Homo sapiens: one gene and its partners. The protein of the gene in region 2 interacts with the protein of the main gene of each other region in a pairwise test. Each region holds a gene or a part of one and is shown on either strand. Other genes may lie near its edges.

Evidence for each region.
Region 1: the proteins of MMD (region 2) and SFXN1 interact in binary tests that used the Homo sapiens proteins (3 or more experiments, as listed by UniProt).
Region 3: the proteins of MMD (region 2) and CYP4F2 interact in binary tests that used the Homo sapiens proteins (3 or more experiments, as listed by UniProt).

The regions. Positions count from the first base shown.
Region 1 is NC_000005.10:175,481,560-175,488,559, reverse strand, and holds part of SFXN1 (sideroflexin-1), read right to left. Parts: intron 1-7,000. UniProt on the Homo sapiens protein: Amino acid transporter importing serine, an essential substrate of the mitochondrial branch of the one-carbon pathway, into mitochondria.
Region 2 is NC_000017.11:55,397,583-55,405,070, forward strand, and holds part of MMD (monocyte to macrophage differentiation factor), read right to left. Parts: intron 6,966-7,488; coding exon of another isoform or gene 6,869-6,965; exon of another isoform or gene 6,732-6,868; intron 6,287-6,731; coding exon 6,185-6,286; intron 3,957-6,184; coding exon 3,887-3,956; intron 1-3,886. UniProt on the Homo sapiens protein: Involved in the dynamics of lysosomal membranes associated with microglial activation following brain lesion.
Region 3 is NC_000019.10:15,887,807-15,895,294, reverse strand, and holds part of CYP4F2 (cytochrome P450 4F2 precursor), read left to right. Parts: intron 1-2,712; coding exon 2,713-2,766; intron 2,767-2,858; coding exon 2,859-2,986; intron 2,987-4,861; coding exon 4,862-4,983; intron 4,984-5,601; coding exon 5,602-5,872; intron 5,873-7,488. UniProt on the Homo sapiens protein: A cytochrome P450 monooxygenase involved in the metabolism of various endogenous substrates, including fatty acids, eicosanoids and vitamins.

The DNA of each region.
Region 1 (7,000 bases), on a different chromosome or scaffold from region 2:
TGGAAGGCCGAGGCGGGCGGATCACCTGAGGTCAGGAGTTCGAGACCAGCCTCAACATGGAGAAACCCTGTCTCTACTAAAAATACAAAATTAGTCAGGCGTGGTGGTGCATGCATGTAATCCCAGCTACTCGGGAGGCTGAGGCAGGAGAGTGGCTTGAACCTGGGAGGCGGAGATGGCGGTGAGCCGAGATCGTGCCATTGCACTCCAGCCTGGGCAACAAGAGCGAAACTCCGTCTCAAAAAAAAAAAAAAGAAATGCATCTGGTGTCTTCAAAGAATAGCAAGAAGGCATGAGCTGGGGCGGAGTGAGGAAGTGGGAGATGGGAGATGAGGAGGTAAGAGATGTAATGGCTCAGGTTGGAGTCAGATGATGTGGGTTATGGAGCCACTGTAAGGCCTTTGCATTTCACTCTGCAACAAATGGGAGTCACTGGAAGGTTCTGATGAGAGGACCGAAATGAACGGACGCACAATTTAAAAGGATCTCTCTGGCTGCTGTGTGGAGAACAGACAGTGGGGAGATAAGAGCGGACACAGGAGGAACAGTGACAAGGTTACTGCAGAGATCCAGACAGAGCTGGGGGGCAGCGCAGGTGGCAAGAGGTACTGGAATTCTGGGTATTTCTTCAATGGTGCCAGCAGGATTTCTTGACATCTTAGATGTGGGATGTGAGAGAAAGAAAAAGCATGGTTCCTGAGGTATTTAGTTGGAAAAACTGGAGGTGGAGAGGGCCGAGGGAGAAGACAGGAAGCTCAGATTTGCACGGAGTAAGCGTGAGGCACCCAGGAGGCAGCAAGTGGAGATGTCCAGCGGGCAGCAGAGTAAGTAGGTCTAAGTTCAGGGGAGAAGTGTAATCTGGAGATTATCCGTGGGAGTTGTCAGACAGAGATTATATTTAAAGTCATGCGATGTGATGAGATCACCAGGGAAGTGAAGGTAAATAAAGAGATCCAAGGACTGTGGTGTGAAGAGGTCAGAAAGGACTGAAGGCACAGCAAAGTGGGCTGGGGAGTGACTGGTGGGTGCAAAACCAGGAGAGAGTGGCATCCTGAAAGATGAGAGGTAAATCTATTGGTAGCCCGACTGGCCAAAAGGAAGACACCTTGGTAGCCGGTCACTTCCATTTCTGGATAGTGAAGCGGGAGGAGGTGGATTTAACAGCAATGATGGTGGTAGCAAGAGGAACAACACGTTAAACCTCCCCTCCTTGGGAAACCGTTTATTCCTGCAAAGCTGCTAGTGCAGACTGATGGTTCTGCACCAATGGAACACATCAAAATCACCTGGAGAGCTTCTTATAAAGACAAATACTATCCTCCTTCTAGAGGTTCTGATCCAGGAGGTCCAGCATAAGGCTGGGCGTGGGATTCAGCATGGCTCTGGGTGTGGACTTCATGCTGGACGGACACCAGGCTGTGGCTGTACATGAGGCCGTGAGCCATTTCCTTCCCTGCACCCTTCTTTACCCTCCTGTGCCTGCCCTCGGGCCTAGGTGATCTGTGATGTTCCCCGGTGAAGATCTGATATGGGTTTTTCTCAGAAAATTGAATACCAAGGAATCTCTCTTCCCTTTTAACTATAATTCTCACTATCACTATTTTTCCTTCATGCTTAACATAAATAATGAAAACAAAAATTAATATGTAGCTTTTATAGAATTCTAGTTCCTAATAACAAACTATCCCTAATTTGTTAAATATAAGGCAACCTTTAGGGCAAGCTGCCGCCATCACGGTCTCATTTTAGAATTGGTTACTTTATTATTTATTTATTTATTTTGAGACAGGGTCTCACTCTGTCACCCAGGCTGGAGTGCAGTGGTGCAATCATAGCTCACTGCAGCCTTGACGTCCTGGGCTCAGGTGATCCTCCCACCTCAGCCTCCCGAGCAGCTAGGACTACAGGCGTCTGCCACCATGTCCAGCTAGTTTCTGTTTTTTTAAATTTTTGTACTGGTTGTAGAGACAGGGTTTCACTCTATTGCCCAGGCTGGTCTCGAACTCCCGGGCTCAAGTGATCTGCCCACCCTGGCCTCCAAAATGCTGGGATTACAGGTGTGATTCCCTGCACCCAGCCAAAAATATGGTTACTCTATAAAATATAAGTATTATCATGTATAAGAACTGGATAGTCTGAAAAATGATTTATCCAATGCGCTTATTATGCGGAAGCTGAGGTCCAGAGGGGAAATAACTTGCCCAGGTTGCATGGCAGATGCTGGCAGCAGAAACAAGTCCGGGAGAACTCAAAGCAGGAGCAGCCTCCAGGGCACTGGCCAGCTTTCCACTCACCACTCTTTTCTAGCCATTTTTCTTGAAGTATGACACCAATTAATGTCTGCAGAGAAATGATATCTTGGAGGCCCCCCCACTTTTTTCCTTTAAATAAAAACTTGACCTTTACACTATGAAGTTCTATACTACAATAACCTTAAGGTTACTCTAAGTACAAGTGATCAAGAATGCTGTGGAGGCCTCACAAAAGATGTCTTCCTTTGTAGGCGAGGAAAAAGGAGAGAGAGGGAGAGGGGAACCCTAACATCTTAAGAATTTCCATTATATACAAGGAATTGGGCTAGATGCTGGCCTAAGCTTGCCACATCAGAGAATATTCTACCTCATTTCTCACGACAATAGTGTGATTCAGACATCCTATGCACATTCCGCAGACGGAAGAATCAGATTCTGGGATGTCATTCAAAGCCACCCCATCTTTCCAGCAAGGGAAGCAGCAGGAGTTCTTGACGCCAACTACTTATCTGCACACTCCAGTTAAACCCACCGAAATCCTGGCACTGGAAGCGCCCACTGCATGTTACCCATGATGGGGAGAACAATGGCTGCCAAAGATGTCTCATTCTAATCCCCAGAAGCTGTGAGAAGGTCTAATAAAAAATGCTGCTATCTTTAGTATCTATTTATTGAGCACCTACTACTGTGAATATGTTACCTCACATGGTGCAGGGACTTTGCTGATATGATTAAGTTAAGGATCTTGAGAGATGCAGGCATGATCCTGGAATATTTGGTTGGCCCAATGTCATCACAAGGCTCCCTATAAGAGATGGAAGGAGGCAGAAGAGGCAGAGCCAGAGAAACAGATGTGGGAACAAGCAGAGGTTGGAGTGATGCTGGGCTGTGAGCTGCAGCCCCTAGCAGCTGGAAAGGGCAGGGAAAGGGGCTCTGCCCTAGAGCCTCCAGAAGGAAGGCCCACTTGTTCTAGACTTCTGACCTCCAGAACTCTAAGATAATATATCTGTGTTGCTTTAAGCTACTCAAATATGTAGTAATTTGTTATAACAGCAATAGGAAATGAATACAACACTGTTTCCTCTACTTAAAAGGGATTTCAAGTTGTACTATAGTGGCATAAGAAATACCAACTGGATTTGATAATCTGTGTTCCTCTGCACCCAGAATTAAAAATCAAACAAACAAACATACAGACTAATCAGGAATGCCACATTAGCATTCTCACAAAAACAGCTGATCTCAAATCAGATAACATTTTAATTATTAACCGTGATGCCATGTTTCAATTAGGCAAGACTTCTTTCACGCATGAACTGACTTCCACCTTCAAGCTCAGGAGCAGCCTGCACTCCAGGTAAATTGATCCATTTTTAAAAAACAGGAGCCCCACTTAAAAAACAAACAAACATCAAAACTTATTTCCTATTCACATTAAAGTCAACAGCACTGAGCGTGGTGGTGCGCACCTGTAATCCTGGCTACTTGGGAGACTGAGGTGGAAGGACTGCTTGAACCTAGGAGGTTGGAGACCACACTGGGCAACATAGTAAAACCCGTCTCTAAAAATCAATGGGGTCTAGCAAGCGCGCTGACACGGAGCGCTCCTTACGCACGGGGCCTGGGCTGAGGAGGATGCGCCGAGACGCGCCCTGTGCTGGCTCCATTTTGTGTCTAGAGTCTATTCAGGGAGCGAGATGCTGGTATCCTTAAGGCCTTGGCCGCTATGTGGGGATCCCCAGGGTGCACCCTTTTCCACCCGCAGGGGTCAGGGCTGGCCGGGCCACTTGGTTGGTCCGCAGCATTCCGGCGTGCACCTGCTGGCCCCGGGCAAGGCAGAGATGCGCTGAGGGCATGTGCCCCGCACACCTGGTACTGACGGGTCAGGAGGGCCGGGTTGTGGGGCGGGACTGCTGCGGGCACCATCGTGGGGAGGGAACGAGGTCATGGGGTGGGGGTGATTGTGCAGGAATGGCCTTTGTTTTTCCATGGTCTGGCTTATGCAGCCATCCATCTGGCAAATTATGGCCCCTGGGCTTGTCTGGAAGGTTGAAACTGGGTAAAGATCAAACATCTCGTTACAGAGGTGTCTTGAACATCAATCACAGTCTTTCATGACCTAGGATAGGGACAGTGCTAGGACAGAGGCTTCTCGACTCCGGATTTCTGCAGACTGCGCTGGAGGAAGTCATGCTGCACAGCCTTGTGCTGACACTGGGAACAGGAATAATCATGAAACCACAGATACTTCAAAAGAAAGTTTTGGAGAACAAGATGTTTGCGTTCCCACTGCAGATGCGGCAAGGATCATGAAGAATGTCCCTCAGAGGGACACACTACACGGGACGCCAAAGAATGTGTTCCAGAGTGTGTGGGTTCATCAGCTTCACGGCACCTGAAGCAAGTGAAAGATGCCAGGGAGAGTGCGGAGACAGTCAGTGGGGAGGGTGCTCTCTTTGCCCTGTTCACCTGAGGCTTTGAGAGTTATGCAGAAGCGCTGGGGTGGTGCCTTCAGGCACTCAGAGAGGCTAGGAGACAGGGGAGCAGGCCCCAGTCCACCAGAGACACAGAGGGACCTAGGGAAGCTGTGGAAGAGGCGCTTACTGAGCAGTTATTAGCTGGCTTCAGGACTGCAGAAAGGCAGCAGCAAAATGTTATGGTTTACACAGCGGCACACTGGCAGGTTTCTCATGTCCAGCAAGCTCAGTTTTCACGAGCTGAAGAAATGGTGCAATGGGGTGTGGAGGGAAGAGAAAGGGGCTAGAACAGACGCGCTAGAAGAAAATGATTGGTGACAGACGGTCTCTGTGTATTGCACTAGCTGTAATGTGGCTTCCTGGTGCTCGGACAACTGAGGTGTTAATTCTAAGAATCTTTTTCATGAATGATTTTAAAGAAATTTTTGGATTTTAACGGTATTAAGAAATTTTGGTGGGGTATGAGAAAAAAGTGGGACTTAAAAAAATTCTGTGGTTGGCTGATGCCACTTATGCTAAGAAGAAAAATGACTTTGAGGTTTTATCACATAAAGACATTCTCACAATGATGTCGGCTACCTGGAACTGTTAATAATTATGACATTATACTGCATTTGAGTGAACAGATTATTTTAGAGATGATATATGTTGAAAAATTATTTTACCCCTAAAAAGAGACGGAAATAATTTCATAGAGAAATTAAAAACTGTTTAAATTCAATCTTTTAACTAAGGTTTTGAGTAAATATAGTTTCATGGAGCCTCATCCCAATAGATTTCTCAAAGTCTTTTTATTTATTCATTCACCAACAAAATTAACTTACGCCTTCCATATCCACTGAAGGCCTCTTATGTACTCAACACTGGCTTGGTCCTGGGTTTGGAAAGACCGAACACACAGCTGTTTTTTTCTGGCTGGTTTTTGCTGATGGAGGCCCCCCGCCCTGTGGTGTAATTTCCCGAGCATCTACCCTGATAACCTATGGAATGAGAACCGGATTTAAGCAAATATAATCTAGATTTCAGTCCTGATTCTATCATTTCCTTTCTAGACATGTGACTGGGTGAATTACTTTACACCTCTGAGCCTCAATTCTGTCATCTATAAAACACAGGTAAGAGTTGGCTCATAGAGTTGGTAGGATCAGCAAACTGAAGAGTATAAGAGGCCTTTATTAATCTTTATTAAGTTACCAAACAAAAGTGGGATCATTATTAACAAGCTGGTTTTCCACGAGTGGAAGCTCCTGTCCTCACTGGCCACAGTCCCGTGCATAAATGCAGCTCCTGGGGCCAGGAATGGCTCCTGAGCTTCCTGAAGATCATCAGAAACATGTAAGAAAAAGAATTTATCTCCAAGATAAATTTTATTTCAAATTTTTAGCTGCATGCTAAGAAAATGCTTAACTGCTGGAGAAAAAAAGAATTTTCCAAAATTTTGTAGAAAACAAGTTAGCAGGGAATGTGCTTTATGAGGAATTAGTACAAAGACCTTTAATCTTGGCTAAAGAGTACCAATGATAACTGCGTTATTAAGCTGGAAAGCTGTTGGTCAAAACTACCGTATTTTGAAAGAGTTATGAAAGGGTCTGATTGCCCAGTTTGTTTCACTAGGGCCAGGCAGGTGTGAGACAGCCGGTCAGTCACTGCTGTCCACTGTCCAGGGGACATGACGGAACACCCAGACACTAGGCTTTCCATGCATTGTTAGATTGCTAACTCCTTATGACAGCCCTCCAAGATCTTTTCCCCTGTTTTATAGAGCCGCTCGGAGAAATTTAGTACCATGCCCAAGATGACACAGCCTTCACAGTTCTGTCTGACTTTGAAACTCAATTCTGACCCTTGGAGGCCAGAGAAGATGTGTCTGCCAAGGACAATCACACTAACTCAAGGAGCCTAAAAACCAAATTCCCTGATTTCTGTTGGGCTGGTCATCTGCATATAGTGGCCTTTTTTATGGGCATGGCCACACAGGAGATCGAATTATAGATCAGAGAGTTGAATTCTGTGCAAAGCATTAGATTCATTCTATTTCCACTCAGCAATGGATTTGTGTTGCATATGCTTCCCTGTTCCAGGATAGTTCTGCATGGAGACGTTGGGCCTGCCTAGCATCAGGAAGACATGGAGAATCAAGGCCTCCTGCCTTTCCCACTGCCATGTTCTCCCCTCCCATGCAGATCCCACTATTCTACTAACTTTAAAACACCCATGTGCCAGGCGCGGTGGCTCACACCTGTAATCCCAGCACTTTGGGAGGCTGAGGTG
Region 2 (7,488 bases):
GGCCCGACCTCAGCTCACTACAACCTCCTACAACCTCCACCTCTTGGGTTCAGGCGATTTTCCTGCCTCAGCCTCAGCCTCTCGAGTAGCTGGGATTACAGGAGTTCTGCCATCACATTCAGCTAATTTTTGTATTTTTAGTAGAGACAGGGTTTCACCATGTTGGCCAGGCTGGTCTTGAACTCCTGACTTCACATGATCCACCCGCCTCAGCCTCCAACGTGCTGGGATTACATGCGTGAGCCACAGCACCCGGACCCTTTCAGCATTTTAAATGTGCCATTACATTGTATTCCTGCTCCCATGAATTCTGATAAAATGTCAGTGGTCATCTTCTCTCCTTGCTCTTTTTTCTCTCTCTGGCTGATTTTAAGGTCTTGTCTTTGCCTTTGTTTTTTAGTAATTTGACTTTAATGTGTCTTAGTGTAGTTTTCTTTGTGTTTATACTGCTCAGGCCTCCTCGTGCTTTGTGGATCTCTAGGTTGATATTTTTCATCAAATTTGGAAAAGTTGTAACTATTATTTCTTCAAAAAAAAAAAAAAAAAAGAAAAGAAAAACTGTAAAACAGAAAACCCAAAACAAAAAACTGCCCCAATTTCTTTCTTCTTTTGTTCATTTTTAAATCACTCTTTTCTCTCATGCTTCAGTTTGTATAGTTTCTACAGACCTGGCTTCAAGTTCACTGAACTTTGCTTCTGCAATATCCAATCTGTTATTAAATCCCTCCAATAATTTTTTTTTCTTAAGACATCACAGTTTTCGGATCTAGAATCTCCATGTGGATTCTTCTTCATAGTCTCCAGGTATTTTCTGAGATTCCTCATCTGTTTTAAACTCCCTGTGTGTGAATCTCAGTATCTCTCCCGTCTTTTGATCTGTGTCTATTGATCTGTTTTCCCTTAGGTATGTGTCACTTTCCAGTTTCTTGCCCATCTGGTAATATTTATTATATATTTATTATTTATTTTATTACATTATTATTGATTTATTTCTGATAATATTTACTTATGGTACATGCTAAGTTGTTACAGTAAAGATTCTGTTGTATTCCTTTAAAAATTGTTGAGTTTTGTTCTGTTAGGCGGTTTATTTACTGGAGGATCAATTTTATCCTTTCAAGGTTTGTCTGGGCCTTGTTATGGCAGTTCTAGAGTAGCCCTCCCTCTAGGGATAGAGTAGCTCTACTCCTAAGCTGTGGCCTTGGCAGGGTCAGCTGAGTGCCTGGGATGTCCAGCACCATCTCTGAACTCTGCTTGGTTGGAACTTCAATGTCTTTCAGCACTGGGAACTGTCCGGAATTTCCATTTATCTTCCAGCCTTCTAAGAGTTATTTGCAACTGGAGCTTGCAGAGTTTTGGCCCGTACAACATTCAGCTTGATATCTGGACAACGACTCACGGAAACTGCTTCATGGATTTCTGAAGCATCCTCCCTGAGCGGCTTCCTCCTCTTCCATACCCTGCCCCACAAACTGCAGCCATGTCAGTAACCTGAACTGTAATTTCTGTTTCCTCCACCCAGGCTGCTGTTCTCTGGGCTTTACCTCCTTTTGTTGCTGTTTGGAAAGTGTCTCCAGGGAAACTACTGGGGTGAATTCAAAGCTCATTTTCTTGGTTTCTCTTCCTTCAAGGATCACAGTCCTGTACTGTTTGGGTTCAGAGCCAAAAAAACAGTTGCCTTTATTCTTTTTCTAGTTTTACAGTTCTTTATGGCAGAAGGGTAAGTCTGAGACCCATGATTCTGGCCAGAACCAAAGATTCGCATTTTCATTCATTCTGTTACTGTGTTAGTGGCTTTTGAGGTCCTTTGTGATCTGGACTCTTGTCTAGCTCTCCAGCTTTATTACAAGACTTGTGCTACCTGCATACCTGCCCCCACCATGCATATGTACATAACTCAAGCTGGTACATGTATTTTATGTTACAAACAATGAGCTATTTTCATTTCTCCAAAGATGCTGGTGCTTCCCCCTTCTCTGGGCTTCCTTCATGCTGTATTCTCTACCTGTAACACTTGCCTCACCCCTACCATCTCTCAGCTTCTACATGTTTTTCCAAATCAGCTGAAATATCACTTCCTCTGGTACTTCTGTCATGTTCGCATAGCAGCCTGAACTTTCCCCCATCAAATATTTTATCAAATTTCATGATCTCTTTTTCTTTAATAGGAACTGCATTTGCCTGCTTGACTCTAAGTTCTATGAAGGCAGTGTGGGGGATCATCCTGCTTGATTATCACAAACATTAGTCACCTGCTATTGTACCACTTATGGAAATGTCAATTTCAAATTTAGGCTAGTAAAATTACTGGATAAACCTGCTCTTATGATACCCAGAGGGAATTTGCTTGAAATTCTACTCTATTAAGCTGCACAAACCTTGCTTATATTGCTTGGGGTGTCCTGAAATGCCTTCTAACTATATGGCCTTCAAGGCTGATTTTCTCATTTCTGTCCTTTAACTCCTCCTCCTTACCATTCCCTGTTGCTTTTACCATCTATATGTATTTTGGGTGCTAGGTAATTATTAAAGCCATCATAAACCTCGTATCTCAAAGAAATATATTTTGTTATATTCTCATGAAGACATCCCCTGAAAAAACAGAACCAGATTTGAAACTTTTAAACCTTTTATAGGTGTTTTTGTGACCAGGAAAAAAACTATCACAGAATTATGTTCTTACAGCCAGGCGTGATGGCTTACGCATATAATCTCAGCACTTTGGGAGGCCGAGGCAGGTGGATCACCTGAGCTCAGGAGTTCAAGAACAGACTAGCCAACTTGGTGAAACCCCATCTCTACTAAAAATACAAAAAATTAGCCAAGGGTTGCAGCCCGCATCTGTAATCTCAGCTACTTAGGAGGCTGAGGTGGGAGAATCACTTGAACTCAGGAGGCGGAGGTTGCAGTGAGCCAAGATCGCTCTACTGCACTCCAGCTGGGCAACAGAGCAAGACTTTGTCTCAAAAAAAAGAAAAAAAAAAAAAGGTTCTTACAATGTGCCTATGAGATTAGGAGTGAAATCCTAAGTACAGTTCTTCTGAACAATGTAGGCTCAGAAGGGTTCAAACGAAACACCTTGGGACCTCCTTAGTTAATATAGTGCCTAGAGCCTAAGATACTGCAATATATAAGCTAAAGGGCTGGTAACCAGGTGGATGGAACCATGAAGTCGTAATAATATATTTTCATTTCAAAAAGACAGACACACACAGACTTCTCAACAGTAATTCAATTTGAAAGGGAATTCAAATATATACATGCAACTGCCTATTACAGGTAATGTTACACTTTACCCACGAAAATCCCCAAAAGATATTTTCAAGCAAAGTAAAAGAAAAAAAAAAGTGCTTGCCTTAGAAAACAGAACAAACAAACAAAAAAAGTGCTTGACTTACGACTTAAAAGCAAGGGAAAGGAAAAGTAAGAGTAAAGGGATTTGAAAAATACCTCTCTGAACCTATTCTGGTTCTGATTCAGGAAAGTACCATAAAGACAGAAACATACCTGAATTTATAGCTTTCCCAAACTGTACACGGTACCTAGTGCAAGCTTACGAGTTGCTGGCACACTTCATTATTTTTATTATTTTTTTGAGACAGGGTCTCGCTCTGTTCCTCAGGCTGTAGGGCATGAACACAGCTCACCACAGCCTCAACCTCCTGGGCTCAAGCAATCCTCCTGCCTCAGCCTCCCATGTAGCTGGGACCACAGGCACATGCCACCATGCCAAGCTAAACACTTCATTATTTATAAGTTCTTTTTCTTTTGAGCCTCTATTTAATGGACATAACTTTATAAAGAAAAGCTACATATCATATCCATAATCATGTTAAGTTCCAGCAGCTTAAAAGAAAATAACTAAAATTCTGAAGCCATGTCTTACCATTGATGTCACCACCAAGGCTGGAGAGAATCCCATTGTGAGATAGAAAAAGAGTTCAACCACCTTATATCTGCAGGAACAAAAATGCAGTTAATTTAACTTATAAATTTCTATAACACCTAACAATTTACATACCAGCCTTTCCTTTTTACTTTTGAGAAAGAAATGTAAACTCTTAACTATTCAAATAAAACTTTATTTCTCAGTAGGCAACCACTAGGCCTCTAACTAAAACACAGTAGCTGAGTAACAAGGAACTAGCATTTCTCTCAGGGTTGAAAAGGCATCAAATCCCACATGCCACCTAGAAAATGTTTTCTGCCGGCCGGGCACGGTGGCTCATGCCTGTAATCCCAGCACTTTGGGAAGCCGAGGCGGGCGGATCACGAGGTCAGGAGATCGAGACCATCCTGATTAACACGGTGAAACCCGTCCCTACTAAAAATACAAAAAATTAGCTGGGCGTGGCGAGCGCCTGTAGTCCCAGCTACTCGGGGAGATGAGGCAGGAGAATGGCGTGAACCCGAATGGCGTGAACCCGGGAGGCGGGGCTTGCAGTGAGCCGAGATCGCACCACTGCACTCCATCCAGTCTGGGTGACAGAGCGAGACTCAGTCTCAAAAAAAAAAAAAAAAAGAAAAGAAAAAAAAAAGAAAATGTTTTCTGCCAAAAGTAGTTATCGTTTAACCCACTCCACCTTGTAAAATATTTCCTCTTCTGATCCTAGAGTGTCTGCTTTCATTACCATTCCAATCCAGAGCTAGAAGTGAAATTCTGAAGATGAATGGAGATGCAGCCTGGAGCCTAGTTTATCAGCAAAAAGGAACAGCAAGCCCTAAGGAAAGGACGTGTAATTTTGTTTGTCTCTTTATTTTGCACCTGCACAAACTGTAATTTTAAGGCTCATCACGTTAGACTACAAAAGATCTAAAAACCCTAAGAAATACATTGTATTGAAATTCAAATTACATTTCAGCCTAATCAAACCAGACGATAAGCTCCTCAAAGGCAGGAACCAAGATTAATTATGTTTTGATCTGTAAATCCTAGAACAGTACCTGATACAATTTAGGTACTCCCTAATGTCTGCCAAACTGAATGGCCAAGGGTGACTCATACCTCATTCATCGTGTTTTATACTCAAAGCCTACCATGAAATAATCAGATAGGGGAAGAATGGGTTTATGGGTTTTGTTTACACCAGAAGGCCGGGAAAAGGAGAAAAGATAGTTGCCTTTCTTGACTTCCTATTTTATCCAAGGATATAAATAAGAGATTTGAGTCCAAGAAGCAAACCATTCCCTTGGACTTAAATATGCTATAATATATAACACTACTCAGCATTGCTAATTATGGTCAAAAAGGTATTTAAGTGAATTTCAGAGACAAAAAGAAGTTAGTGAAAACTACCATTTTCTTCTTCTGAAAGGGGAAAACAATTTAGTATTTTCTGATAAACACAAATTATGTTCAATTCTGAGAGCCATTCTGCCAAGCACAATAGATACAGAATTTAATGAACTGTAAATAAACCCAATGACAAAGATTTCCTGGTTGTGTGTTTCTCAAATTCAAACATACAGGGTAATAAAAAGAGCAATGGAATCAGAACTTGGATGTTTGGGTCCTAATTTCCAGATGAGTCACTAATTTGATGCATATCCTAAATGTTCTGACTTTTTAATCATGAAGTTGGAATAGGGGACCTTGAAGGTCTCCTCTAGAGCAAAGATACTAAATTTCAATTAGCTTTTGTTTTTATATGGCTCAATAATTAGGACTATCAGCTATGAATAACTGGCTAAAAAGCTGTGCCCTAGGGATAGGATATTAAGAGTTCCAATGTCCTTCCCAACATCCTTTTTCTCAAGATACCCTTTTTGGAATACCCTCTAGGCCCTTATTTAGGTATATTGTACTGAGCACTTAATATCTATTCTCTCCAATCTTCATAGACACCTTGACAAGTGGCTGGTTTTCTCACGTGATGACTGAATCACAGAGAATAAGGCCAATTTGCCTCATGCTATAGAAATGAAGTCTGATGGACTCCAAAGGGGCTGGTTACCATGTCCCCTCAACTACATTATACCAAACCTGTACCACTCTTGTTTTTCCACAGCAATCTTTCCACTAATAATGAATACCAAATGGTTTTGAAGATTTATTAAAAATAACATATTCTATATATGTATTTCTACTGTTTTGAAGTACAAATAAAAGTAAATTGTATTGCAGTGCAGATAATATTTAGGCAGTCAATTTTAAAACTATCAAATGTAAATTATTTTCTCTTACTTTTCATGGTAGAGAAATACATAAATGGTTCCTCCAGCTGCCATGAGCCAGATAAACCAACGCATATGAGATGCCAGGGGTCCAAGTTCACGAAGATTTAACCTAAAAATGTAAACGTGACAACAAAGAACAGAAGTGATAAATGAAGGGAATTCATAGAACCTGTGTCATTGAAAACTGAGAAAGTCTTAGGATAAGAGCAGGAAGAAAACACACTCAACACATCAAGCAGGCATTTGGGCAATTTAGGTAAAATTAAGCAACTCAAAAACAAATTTGTCAGTCGACCTTTAAGACTCAGAATTAGGCCGGGAGTGGTGGCTCACATCTGTAATCCCAGCACTTTGGGAGGCCGAGGCAGACGGATCACTTGAGGTCAGGAGTTCAAGATCAGCCTGGCCAACATGGTGAAACCCCATCTCTACTAAAAATACAAAAATTAGCCAGGTGTGGTGGCATGTGCCTGTAATCCAAGTTGCTCGGGAGGCTGAGGCAGGAGAATTGCTTGAGCCCGGGAGGCAGAGGTTGCAGTGAGCTGAGATTGCACCACTGCACTCCAGTCTGGGCGACAGAGCAAGACTCCACCTAAAAAAAAAAAAGAATTAGTTTCAACATGGTTTAAAAATAGAACCAGCTAAAAGCAGACAAGTTGAAGGGAGTCCCAGCACTCTTATGACGCCTAACTTACCCTATTAGGCAGAATGAGGTCAAAACTGCTTGCCCTTTAATTTCTGACCATGTATTTGGGAGCAGATTACTTACAAACCTTAATGAGAAGAACCTGGAACAAAATTTTGACGCAGGATCAGATACCCACAGTGGATACCTAATACACAAACCAAGTGTGTCTCCATTATCAGTCTCTCTGCCAAGAGAGAGTATGAGAAGAATTATTCCTAACATGTATTATGGAAGACATTTTGGTAGAATTTAACCATGGACTGTTGTGAGGTTTGAATTTTAAAATGCTGCAAATTCATTTGTACTAATTTCATATTAAGAATACATGAGAAGTTCAGGAACAGTGGCTCACACCTGTAATCCCAGAACTTTGGGAGGCCAAGGCAGGCAGATCACTTCAGGTCAGGAGTTCAAGACCAGCCTGGCCAACATGGTGGAACCCAGTCTCTACTAAAAATACAAAAGTTAGCTGGGCATGGTGGTGGGCACCTGTAATTCCAGCTACTAGGGAGGCTGAGGCAGGAGAATCGCTTGAACCCAGGAGGTAGAGGTTGCAGTGAGCTGAGATCGCACCACTGCACTCCAGCCTGGGTGACAGAACAAGACTCTGTCTCAAAAAAAAT
Region 3 (7,488 bases), on a different chromosome or scaffold from region 2:
GGAACCCTAAGAGACCTCAACCCAAGGCCCAGTCCTGGAGGAACCCCCAACTTTAAGGAGATGGACCTGGATAGAGATATCCCCAACTTCATGGGATCAGGAAAGGGCCAGAGGGAGATGGATCACAGCCCAGGGAAGAACAAGGTCTCTGCTGGGGCAGGCTGGAAGGCTTCCTAGAGGAGGAGTTACTGGAGCTGTGTCTGGAACAATGAGTAGGAATGTTTGAAAGGAGAGTGCAGGGTGAGGCAATTGGACATCGTTAGTATTCAAGGCCCCTTGCCAGGCCTAGCATCACCTTGCCTGTCCCAAAGCCTAGAACAATGAGGAGGACTTGTGGCTGGTGGGGGATCTGGGCTGCTACTTCCATGATGTCCACCTCTGGTGGGTCAATTCCCTTTACCCCATCCTATAGCTTGTCTGCCCTAAGTTCGTTGCTCTCCTGCTGCAGGTCCCGGGGATCTCCAAGAGGAGACTCCACCCCAGCTTGGGTCCCTTTCCTTGACCCCTGTGCTTCCCATCGTTGGACGGGCGAGGCTGAGCAGGGGGAATGGGCAGCATCCTACAGAGACCATGGCTCTGACCTCAAAATGCTGAGTGACTCTGGGCTGGTACCCAGCTGTCTCTGGTTATTGAAGTCTCTTTCAGTTGTGAGTGGTGGAAACCCAACCTGGTGTGGTCTAAGCAAAGAAAGATAATCTATTGACTTTAAAGTCCAGGGAGGGTGGCCTTCAGGCATGGCTGGATCCAGGTCTCACACAAGGTCACTGGAAATCTGTCTTTCTCTCTTGGCTTTAGCTTTCTCCATGTCGCTTTTCCTATCAAGGTGGCCTTTTCCTCATGATGTCAACGATGAGTCCCAGAAGCTCAGTTCTTATGGGAAAGGCCACCTTTCCCCTAGAGTTCCCAGAAATGGCCCATGGTTTACTTCTCCTGGCCTGGATCACAGGACCAATTTTTCACCCAATCCCTGTGTCTCTGATTGCCCAGTCTTGGTAGGCCTGGGTCTTCCAGAGCTACTGTTTTGGGGGCACAAAGAAGTTTGTTGGTTAAGGATTCAGGCCATGGGTGCAGACAGACCTAGTCTTAGGCCTCAGGCTTGCCGTGGTCTGGGACTGTGGGCAAGTGACTTTATTGTTCAGAGCCTCAGGCTCTTCATCTGGAAAATGGGATGAATGAGAGCCCAGGGAACATGGTGTGTGGATCCACATGGGGAAAGACCTTTTCTGTCTGTGTAACTGAAGGACTGGAGAGTCCTGCATGGAGGATGTGAGGAGGCAGGGGGTGCTCAGCACTGACAGGAGGATGAGATGCTGCTTGAAATTCTCAGGGAGAGGGCTTCGACCTCTTCCCTGCAGATCCTTCTCTCTCACAGCCTAGGAGAGCATGAATTGGGTCCTGTGTGTTTTTCTCCAGATTCACAGCTCAGAAGAAGGTCTCCTATACACACAAAGCCTGGCGTGCACCTTTGGGGATATGGGCTGCTGGTGGGTGGGGCCCTGGCAGGCAGTCATCCACATCTTTCTCCCCACGTGCATCAAGCCTGTGCTCTTTGCTCCAGGTAGACATCGCACTGGCCAAGCTTTGCCCACAGCTGGGGTTGCTGTGCTGCCTCCAGCTGAACACGTGACCGATGTGCAGACAGGAGGGGCTGTGGTGGAGATGCCATTGCCTCCATCGCCCCTGGACTTCCACCTGTCTAACCTCTGTTGCTGTTTGCTCATGTCTGGGGCGTGTCTCTACAATGGCTGTTATATGGCCAGGTCTGCCTTGTATATTTACACCTGGGTCCTGGTTACACCTGAAATATGTTATACCTGGTTACATCTGGTATATAATTCCAACTGGGGTCATGTAGAGCTGGTCAAGTTTGGGGCTTATCTGTGGCCAAGGACATTTGGGGCATGTGAGGGCCTGTTTGGTTCTTGTCTCAGGTGCTGTTTGACACTGCCGTTTTCTCCTGGTGGTCCAAACATCTGGGCGTTGTGTGAGGTCTGGGGGTTGTGTGAGGTCTGGGACCCAGGGTCCCTATGTGAACTGTCTGAGACATTATTTGAGTCTTGTCTGAGGCATGTGTTATAGTATATTTGGGTCATGCCTGAGGAACAGTCTGGTTCACATGTTGGCTATGTCTGTGACATTAAAGGTACCATATTTATATTCAACCCAGAGCCTGTATGTGGAACACGCTTTTAAGATCATGTTAGACCATCTCATGTGCATGTTAGAGCACACCATCTCATGTTAGGAATTGTCATGTATTTTGTGGCCATGTCAGGACATGTGAACACATGTCAGGGTCATGTCTCATGTCCAGGTCCATGTCAGAAGATGCCATATCAGAAGATGTCAGAGAGTGCTGGGACAGACAGGGTGTCCTAGGTCCTTGTGAAGCATTCTGTAGAATGCTGAGCTGTGCTCAGGGGTTGCGGAACATGTTGGATCGTGTAGGAGGCATGTCAAGGCATGCTGGAACCCTGACATAGCTCCTACACGCCATGTTAGGCAGTGTCATTGCTGTACTGTGCTGCTGTAGCCTGGTCTGGTCTTCCCTCCCCTCCCCATCCTCCCTTCTTCCTCTGCCCTTGGCCCTCTTCCTGCTATGTGGGGCTCAGAGTGGGAGAAGTGCAAACCTCTTGCTGGGAGCCTCCACCCACCCCCAAAGTCCCTCTTTCACCTGCCTCCATGGCCCCTGATTGTCCTCATTTATGTCAGCTGCCATTGCACCAAAGGACAAGTTCTTCTACAGCTTCCTGGAGCCCTGGCTGGGTGAGTATCTGCAGGTGAACAGGGTTGGGAAAAACGTTGGGGGGCCAGGGGAGGGAGAGGTCCTTGCCCATGGCCCTTGGCTGCCCTGCTAGGGGATGGGCTCCTGCTGAGTGCTGGTGACAAGTGGAGCCGCCACCGTCGGATGCTGACGCCTGCCTTCCATTTCAACATCCTGAAGCCCTATATGAAGATTTTCAATGAGAGTGTGAACATCATGCACGTGAGTTATTTGAAGCCAAGGTCCCACTTGCAGCCTTGGGGTGAAAGGACAACAGAGAGATCTAGTCTGGAGTTTTGGCTCTGCTGGGTGCCATTGGGCCATTGCTCTTTCTCACTGAGCCTTGGTTTCCTCATCTGTAAAATGGGGATAATAATCCCTACTTAAAAGATGGTCAGAGTAATGTAATGGAGTCACGTCTCTGGTGCATAGCAGGTGCCCAGAAGGTGTCTGTTTCTATGTTTCCATCACCAAAGCCCTGTAAACACAAGAGGGTCATGACAACAATTTCATAGTAGCTGTTGCTGATAAGAAACCACCTGAAAACTCATTGGTTTAAACCAATAAGTGTTTATGTTTGCTAATAAGTCTTTGGGACAGTTGGCAGGTTCTTCTGTATATGGAAGGGACCACTCATGGTACATGAGCAGCTGGGGGTCAGGTAGGCAGCCTTGCAGGTGTTGACTGAATTCTGCCACATGTTTGGGTTTTGGCTGGGACATGTTTGGGTTCTCTCACGTGTCTAGGTTTGGCCTCATCTGGGACCCCTGGATGTTCCTCCCTATGATTGTCTCCTTCCAGAAGGCGCGCCATGGTTCACAATGCAGGCAGGGTTCCAAGGAGTAAGACAAGGCTTAGCTTCGTTAGTTATTAACTCATCATTTTCACCACATTGTATTTTGACATCGAAAGCCAAAAGTCCAACACAGAATCAAAGGCAGGGGGATAAAATAGGCTCTGTCTATTAATGGGAGTTGCTGAAAAATCACATTGCAAAGGGTGTGGATATGGCAGGAAGGGAAGAATTGTGGCAAAGGTTTTGCGAAGTATCTAGGATTTTTTTTTTAACTTGCAAATTGATAAGTTAGCTTGTTACTGTTTCATAAATTCTTCCAGAAGGACGAGAGACTCCTGGGTCAGAGACAAAGGATAGTTTACTACTCATGACACAGACAGCAGCATGTGTTTCTTGTTAGATTGCCTTTTTTCCCTCCAAGCTTCCCAAATCCCATGGGCTGACACAGGTGGGCTTCTATAAGTGCCTGCTGACATCATATATTGCATTACAGAAGAGGAGCTTTAAGCTTAGGGAATCTGCTTTTATAGAAAGCAAAAGCAACATGTCTAGAGGGAGTCTTTACCTTATCCCTCAAAGTTTTTCTTCGCAAACACAACTCTGAGAAATTTTCCATGTTAAGGACATCAGTGTCTTGCATTCATGACATGCCCAGAAAGAATGCTCAGGACTCAACGAAGGACTACCTCCCCCAAAACAGGGATATTTTTGAAATCAATTTATAACAATGCAGACGGGGAAATCCAACATTTATTGATCACATACCATATGCCAGAAACAATGCCATGTGCCCATTCCATGATACGAGTATGTATTGTCTAATTTGATTTTAACAGCTCTGCGAAGGAGAGATTATGTATTTTTGCCCCATGGTAGATGATGAAACTGCAGGTCTGAGAGATTAGGGAACTAACCCAAGTTCACCCAGCTAATAAGTGAGCATGGCGAGGTGGAGCAGAGTTTCTAATGTGAATTATATGGCTCCAAAGCACATCATCTTAACTGTTTCTGAAGATTTGACAGGCAGGATATAGGGGAGGGTAATGAGTTGACTAATGGCACACAGAGCACAGGGGACAGAGCTGGAACTTGAACCTAGTTCTCCTAACTCCCAATCTTGGGTCTTCATCTCTTAATAGTAACAGCTTTTGTTTGCACCATAACCTGGTGCTCCCTGGGGAGGGGTCCCTGGGGAGAAGATGAAGAGGCTTATTCTGGGGAGCCCATCTTGGCAGTTGGGGTTGGAGAGGTGCTCAAGGGAGCAAGGAGCCTGCCCCAGCTCTGTCCCCTTCTCTGGCTAGGCCAAGTGGCAGCTCCTGGCCTCAGAGGGTAGTGCCTGTTTGGATATGTTTGAGCACATCAGCCTCATGACCTTGGACAGTCTACAGAAATGTGTCTTCAGCTTTGACAGCCATTGTCAGGAGTAAGTTCTTGCCCAGGATCTGGGATCTTGGGCTGTGGACCCAAAGTGGGTAGGTGGGAGAGGGAGGACTAAGCAGGGAAACCAGACAAACCTTCCTGGAGGAGTTTTGTTATACCTGATCATTGAAGGACTGGTATGAACTTTATCTTGAGGTTTCCAGGGAGCCATTGAAGGGGTTTGAACTGGTGGGTGTGGTCAGAGCTCTGTAGGGGACTGACTAATGTAGCACTAAATGGAGTTAACACTGATGCAAAGAGGCTAGGGTGAAAGCTAGACCATGGACCAGTTGCAGGAGGATAAAGTCTGAGCTTTGTGGACAGTTTCAAGGAGACGGGTCAGGACTGTATACTGGGAGGGAAAGAGAGAATAGGAGAATAATGTGCAAGCTATGCTCTGGGTGCCTAGCGGCATGGAGGCATCTCACAGAGATGGGATGCAGGGAGAGAAGAGAGCTTGGAGAATCAATCTCATGCTGATCCCCACCCTGTATCTGTGGGGTCATCTGTTCCTGGATACTCTGTTTACTGATAGGAGGTAGATCCTGGCTGCTGGTGGGAGGTGATCCTGGGGCTTCAGGTATATTAAATTGTTGCCTCCCTTTCTGCCCTTATCCTGCAGGAAACCCAGTGAATATATTGCCGCCATCTTGGAGCTCAGTGCCCTTGTATCAAAAAGACACCATGAGATCCTCCTGCATATTGACTTCCTGTATTATCTCACCCCTGATGGGCAGCGTTTCCGCAGGGCCTGCCGCCTGGTGCACGACTTCACAGATGCCGTCATCCAGGAGCGGCGCCGCACTCTCCCTAGCCAGGGTGTTGATGACTTCCTCCAAGCCAAGGCCAAATCCAAGACTTTGGACTTCATTGATGTACTCCTGCTGAGCAAGGTGGGCCTCTCTGGGATCTGAATTCAAGAAGTAGAAGGGAGCTTCATGTGAAATGTCAGATGAAAGGATTTGAACTTGATTAAGAGGGCACTAGGGAGCCATGGAAGGTGATTGAGGAAGGGAGGGACAGGTCAGAGATAGGTTTTAGAGATGACTGTGGAGTGCACCTAGCAGGGAGCTGCTAGGCTTGAAACTGACAAGTCTGAGAGTTTGCTCTATTTACAAACTAATGAGTTAATTGTCCACATTTAACTCCATACATCTACATCTATATCTATGTCTGGTCTATGTTTATGTTTTTGCCTATGTCTTTCTATATCTTTGTCTCTGTTTGAGTTTGTGTCTCTATGACTGTGACTATGTGTATGTCTTTGTCTTTGTAATTGGCCATATCTGTATGTCTTTTTATCTATGTCTTCATCTTTGTCTATGTCTACGCCTTTGTCCTGTCTTTTCTATGTCTCTGTTTATGTCTTTGTCTCTGTCTATATTTTCATCCATGTCTATGTGTATGTGTATATCTGTGTCTGCGTCTATGCCTTTGTCTTTTTTCTGTGTTTGTGTCTTTGTCTCAGTGTATGTCTATGTCCATGTTTTTTGTCTGTGTCTATGACTATGTCTTCGTCTATGGCTATGTCTATGTCAATGCTATGTCTATATCTTTGTCTGTGCCTGTGCTTGTGTCTGTTTCTGTCTATGTCTATGTTTATGTCTATCAGTAGTTGTGTCTGAGTGTGTGTCATGTCTATGTTTATGTGTATTTTTGTGTCTGTGTTTCTAAGTCTGTGACTTAGTCTATGTATGTGTGCGTCTGTGTCTATATCTGTGTCTATGTCTATGTTTATGTGTACTTGTGTGTCTGTGTTTCTAAGTCTGTGACTTTGTCTATGTGCGTGTGTGTCTGTGTCTATGTCTATGTGTATTTGTATTTGTGTGTCTGTGTTTCTAAGTCTGTGACTTCATCTATGTGTGTGCGTCTGTATCTATATCTGTGTCTATGTCTATGTTTATGTGTACTTGTGTGTCTGTGTTTCTAAGTTTGTGACTTTGTCTATGTGCGTGTGTGTCTGTGTCTATGTCTATGTTTATGTGTATTTGTGTGTCTGTGTTTCTAAGTCTGTGACTTCATCTATGTGTGTGCGTCTGTGTCTATCTGTGTCTATGTTTATGTGTATTTGTATTTGTGTGCCTGTGTTTCTAAGTCTGTGACTTTGTCTATGTGTGTGTGTCTATGTCTATGTTTGTTTATGTGTATTTGTGTGTCTGTGTTTCTAAATCTGTGACTTCATCTATGTGTGTTTGTGTCTGTGTCTATGTCTGTGTTTATGTGTATTTGTGTGTCCATGTTTCTAAGTCTGTGACAGTCTATGTGTGTGTGTGTCTGTGTCTATATCTATATCTGTGTCTATGTCTATGTTTACGTGTATTTGTGTGTCTGTGTTTCTAAGTCTGTGACTTTGTCTATGTGTGTGTGTGTCTGTGTCTATATCTGTGTCTATGTCTAGGTTTATGTGTATTTGTGTGCCTGTGTTTCTAAGTCTGTGACTTAGTCTATGTGTGCGTGTGTCTGTGTCTATGTCTATGTTTATGTGTGTTTGTGTTTCTAAGTCTGTGAT